Regions from separate parts of the Homo sapiens genome. Here region 2 is linked to region 1. The links come from fine-mapping of genetic effects on gene expression. A gene starts in region 1. The other region holds a variant in brackets. All regions are shown on one strand. Distances are from middle to middle. Region 1 holds the start of LPAR1 (lysophosphatidic acid receptor 1). Region 2 has its middle 110 kb from the start of LPAR1.

Region 1 (2,918 bases):
AACCTTAATATACTTACAATGCTGATTATTATTCATAATTTTGCATTTGGGGCAATTATACTCGCTCCTACTGGGATATGGAAATCAAGGGCAGAAAGAACTAGGTGACATTCTACCTCCCTGTGTATTTTAATGATGTTTAGTTTGGTTCAAATAACCATACCTCTAAAATACACCCTTTTTCCTTGGGACCCACTCTTCTATCCGGCAAGGGAATAACTTCTTAAAAAACTTCGCATTTTCCAAGTGTACAGTCTCCCCTTAACCAGAACTGCAGACTCTGAATCACAGACCTCTGGCTTACCAATTATGCTTAGCTGAGCAAACACACTTATGCAAATACGTGAAAAACAAACTGTTAGAGCCTGAAGGAATAGAGGATTTCGCTGTGATCATCAATATGTGATCATCACATTTTCAATATTTATGTTTACCAATATCTATCTAACCCCATAGGAAACGACGCGTCCATAGTGAAACAAGCCAGCACCCACATTTATGAAAAAATCCACGGATTTCAACAAAAATGAAGAGAGGAGAGCAGAAGCGGAGAGCCACAACCTCAGGCCCCAGACAGCAGGCAGCAGCAAGTCCTGAATGCCTTCACTCTTAACATTGCAAAGACCAAATGGCAGCAAAGAAAAACAAGAATAAACTTTAAATCCATTCACCACAAAGGAGTCCTACGCAAGTCAAAGGAGCCGTCGATTTCAAAACCATCAACTTTCAAAGCCAGGTCCCTCCCTTGCCTTACAACCTCCTGTTACTTGTTAAGCACGTTTGTTAGGCGGCTGGACAGAAACTTAGTTAAAAGTCCTCAGCCCGGTGGTGGGGGACAACCGAGTCGTCAGTGGGAAGCGAGAGGTGCGGAGCCCCAGGGGCGCAGGGACCCCTCGGAGGTGCAAGTCCAGCGGGACGAGGTTTTGGGAGAATTTCGAGGGCCCCTCGCAAGCCCTCCCGCGCACCCACCCCGACCCAGGTAACCGGAGGCCACCTACGTGTCACTGGGCGGGCCCCGGGGCGCACTGACCTGGCGCGGGACAGGAGGGCCGGCGGCCCGGGCGGCTGCGGCAACTTCCCTCCAGGGGCTCGGTCCGCCGCTGGGTGCGGGAGGCCAGGGGAGCCTCGCCTCCTGCAGGCCGGCTCGCAAGAACGCACGGCCACCCACCCGCGCCGCGGCCCACAGCGCGCACCCACACTCTCACTGGCACTCGCACGCGCGCCCCCAACCACAAAGCCCGTCCGCGGCGGGACAGTGTGAGCCCAGCGCGCCGTGTGGCGGGCCGAGCAGTCGCCGCGGCCTCTGGCTTCGCGCCCAGGGGGCGCCGTCCCCACACGCCGCGCCGGCCCCCTTACCTGCGCTCGCTGCCGCCGCGCGTCCCTCTCCTGCCGCCCCCGGGCTGGCTTCAGGCCGCGCGCCCAGTCCCGGCGGCCCCCGCCCCACCGCCAGCCGAGCCCGGCCCTCCGCCCGCCCCTCGGCAGTCGCCCAGAGCGGGGCCGCCCCCTGCGCCCACCCCGCCGGGGTCCCGTGCTCGGCCGGGCGGCGGGGAGGGCTCCGCGGCTCCGGGCCCTGGCCGCCCCAGATCCGGCCCGCGCTCCGCAGCGGGGCTGGAGACGGAGTCGCCACTCAGGGAGCGTCAGCCGCCAGTCGGCCCCTACTGCCCGGCTTTGGCGCGCTGGCAGGAGGAGGGGGCGCAGAGGGAGGGCCAGAGGAGCAGCGCCGACGCCAGCCTCCTCTCTTCCTCCGCCTTCCTTCTTTTCTGCTTGTTCCACGTAGCACAAGTCAGCAACACCCGAACCCCCAGAGTCCGCCCTCCCCGCTCCCAAGCTGGACCCCTTACCTGGTGTGGCGCCCCCAGCGCCCCTGACCTCTGCGCCCCCTCCTCCATTCATTGGCTCGACAGCCCACGGTGGTGGCAGGGCCGGGGCTGGGGGGTGGCCTTAGCCTCCCATTCATTATCTCAGCAGCCTCCCCCGCCCCGCCCCCGAGTCGACACACCCGCAGCGGGAGACCCGTGGCCGCCAGCTCGGGTCCCACCCCCGCCCCTCCTGCGCTTACCCCAGCGCCGGACAGCTGGCAGGACTCCGGTGGACGCCCCGGCACGGGGCATTTTCACGTTGTCGCTCTCCTCTTCCCACTCGAAAAGCTCTGGAAAACATCGCGGGGCCCGCAAAACCCCGGAAATGTGGCCTCTCTTTCGTGGCTCACTTTCTAAACTTTCCAGAAGGCGCAAAGTTTCTCCCAGCGCCGCCCTGCACTGGAGGCTGCGAAGAACGCAGAAGCGGCTTTGCTGCTAGGAAGGTGCATACGTTTCTAGTTCTGATTTTTCACTTCACTGGATCTGTAAACGAAAGCAAGTGTGTCTGCTCCCCTAGTTCTCCATATCCACGATTATAAATTTCTCTTCCGCTTTCCCAGTGTAGCTTTGCAAGTGTAAACTATCAATTTTAGTGAGAGTAATTAAGGGCGGGGACTGCACACCTGGAGGTGTGGGTGGGAGCGGCGCGGGACTAAGGCCTAGGGAACATTCTCAGGAGAGTGGCAGCCACAGGGATTCGCCCAGGTCTTATAACACACCCACTCGATGGGGTCTCCCTAGCCACGCCACCTCACAACACCCATCTCCCACTTCTGGCTTCCCAGGATTTCCGGAGTGATCACAATTATCGGCCTCTCGCTCCACAGCTAAGGCCACCGCATATCAAAAATAGCAGCGTGTGAGTAAAAGTTTCATGAGCCCTCGCCTTGAAATGGCACAGAGGACACAGCACACCAGCAGTAAGGCATGGGGACTCGGCAGGACTGATCTGATTGAGAGAAACGCAGGACAGCGAGGCGGGGCTATGTTGGTGGTGGCCACCAGGTAACCGTGGGCTTTGCAGAAGAGAAAGGTCACTGCAAACCGTAGCTGGACGGA
Region 2 (2,918 bases), 110 kb after region 1:
AAAAAATTAAACAAACAAACACTACAAGCATACTCACATTTTTCTGCACACTTAACAAGACACTAAATACCATTTACTTGCTAAATACCACTCAGTTTTTCACTTCCTTCTGCCTCTCTTGTTTTGTAATTCCAACTCTGTCTTGTGACCATCTTAATATTTCAACCAAAATTTCCTGGGTTCTATCTGCTCCCCTTCTCATCCCCAGAATCTAGTATTTCACAAGGAAGCTTAACCTCTCCATATCCACTACCAGCACTGACTTAGAATTTAATACTTCCCTAGTTCACATCCCGGATCCCACACTGGTACATCTCAACCTACATCACTTGGGGTATTTGGATTTATTTTCCAATTGCAAAGTTCTCTGGATATTAGTGAAGATGAGACCTAGGCCCATCTGGTTGTCCAACACATCACAGCAGAACCTGAGCAAGCTCAGGAACCAGCCTGACTCCCCCTAGTGCCACTCTAGAACAGGAGTTTTTAACAAGTGCTCTAGAATGACTGCTTCATAGGAGAGCTGTTACCTAGACGCAGGAGAGAAATGAACATATGTAAAGCAAGGTAAGTCATTTTAAGCAACTGGATTTGAAAGAACTAACTAGTTTATCCAGAATTTTTGAGTAGGGAACAGAGGCTTGGCTCTAGAGCTGCACATTTGGGCCATGTTTATGTGAGTCAGGAGAAAGCCTGGCTCCAAGGCTGACACACTAGCACAGTTGTTGCTGTCACCTTTTGGGGTAATTTGGAGCACACCCAGCAAGAATTGGCCCTGCGGCATGGGAGGCCAGAGGCCAGCTAGAGTTGTTCTTTCCATGAGTACCACACCCCTGGATTTTCAGGGTGTCCTGACACCCCTGGCTCCACTGTGAAAGGGCACACCCATCAGCAGATAGCAACCTACGGGGATCCCATCACCACTTGATTTTCCAAGTTCTGACTTCATTTTCTCCAGGGCATTTTCTCCTCATTTTCCTGGTTGCAGGGGACCGTAGCTGCTTTATTTGGTTATGTTTGGCCCTCAATATGGAATAATAATGGGGTTAAGAGTCTACAGCTGCTTGTTCATATTTAGAAAATGTTTCTTCTAGTTCTGGCTTCATAAATTATTAATTGTCTGAGTTTGGGAAAAATCATTCAAACATCTCTAAATTGTAGTTTCTTCATTCGTAAAAAAAAAAAAAATAACTATCGTATCTACTTCAGATTGCTATGAGAAATGAATGTCATAAATTTTGGCCATTCAACTACAGGCATCTAATGTGTTCCTGATAAAATCACAGAAGTTCTATACATAAAAATATATTTAACTTTTTAAAAATGTTAAGTCTGGTGTTTACCTTCAATCTCTTTAGGATGCCGTAAAAATTTATAAAAGATTAAATGTAATTATTATTAAAAGGATACGTAAGTCTACAGTTTTTAAATAAAGAAAAATTATAAAAATTAAAAATTACCTATAACCTCACCATTGTATGAATTTTGGAAAACTTATTAGCATCAGCAATACATGTTGTTTCGTAAACTATATTTTTGTTTCACAATATGT[T/G]GCAAATGTGGACATGTGAAAAACAGTTTGCGAAATGTGAAATATCTTACAAATGTTTCCAATTACTGTCACTTTTACTATCAGTTACTCTTACTATCAGCTCAGCAAAATTTATTAATTTTCTTAGGATAGTGATTAGTTGTAAGATTATATCTCCATTCTTAAAAAGCCATATGGTATTTAAAAGAAAACAAGCCAAAATATACAAAATGCTGAGAGCTAAACAGAGTTTAATGACTCTGAAAAGGACTCACAGATGTGAACTTATTAAAGTACTGTGCTCTAATGAATAGGAGTCTGGGCTTTGGAGTCATATATACTTGATTCGAATCCTAGCTCTGCTTCTCTAAGTCTCTGTTTTTCTGCTTATTAGCAAAACAAAATATAGTTCTTATCCTAAAATTTTTTTAACATTTAAAATACTTACACATAGGGAAAAATAATAAGTAGTACCTATCTTAAAATATTATTACATACAGTCAGTCACAGTAGCTCACACCTGTAATCCCAGCACTTTGGGAGGCCAAGATGAGAAGATCCTTTGAGTCTAGGAGTTCAAGACCAGCCTGGTCAACATGGCAAAACCCCATCTCTGCAAAAAATACAAAAGTTAGCTGGGTGTGGTGATGCATGCCTGTAGTTCCAGCTACTCAGGAGGCTGAAATGGGAGGTTCACTTGAGTCCAGAAGGTCAAGGCTCCAGTGAGCTGTGATCACACCACTATACTCCAGCCTGGGCAACAGAGTGAGACCTTGTCTCAAAATAAAAGAAAAAAAAATACATTATTAATATTAGATCATAAATATTTAAATAATAAAAAATAGGCCTTCAAAAATACTGAAGATGCTATGGTTTTCAAGGTTTTATATATATGATATATATTGATATATAAGTCAGTATATATGATATATATGTCAATATATGATATATGACATTGATATATGATATATGTGATATATATCTATATGTCAATATGTATTATATCATATTTTTATATAATCATATTATGCATTATATTAAATATTTACATATATTTATAATATATTTATAATTATATAAAAATCTATAAACATAAATTTTTACAAATATATAAATTTATATTTAAATATTTACATAATTTATATAATTATAAATATATATCCATGATATATATCACATATATATCATTATATATCATATGTCATATATTATATATATCATTATATATTACATCGATAATATATATGTATAATTATATTATATATTGATATAATATATGGATATATCTATATATTATGTATAATAGATATATTATATCCATACATAATGCATCAGTATATTAAACAGATATATACAAATTATCATAATTTATAAATTATAACGAATT

Evidence for each region.
Region 2: its variant is fine-mapped to the expression of LPAR1 in whole blood (TOPMed, PIP 0.99).

Annotation. Positions count from the first base shown.
Region 1 is chr9:111,036,811-111,039,728 of GRCh38, forward strand. It overlaps LPAR1 (lysophosphatidic acid receptor 1), which reads right to left and starts at 1,660. Exons shown (of 6, transcript NM_001351411.2): 1 at 1,357-1,660. It overlaps LOC124902248 (a long non-coding RNA gene), which reads left to right and starts at 118. Exons shown (of 2, transcript XR_007061732.1): 1 at 118-979; 2 at 2,645-2,918. RefSeq lists a silencer at 1,090-1,429.
Region 2 is chr9:111,148,728-111,151,645 of GRCh38, forward strand. No RefSeq gene overlaps it. Among named protein-coding and RNA genes, the nearest start is that of LPAR1, 110 kb to the left of the region's middle. The variant T/G (reference allele first, on the strand shown) is at 1,553.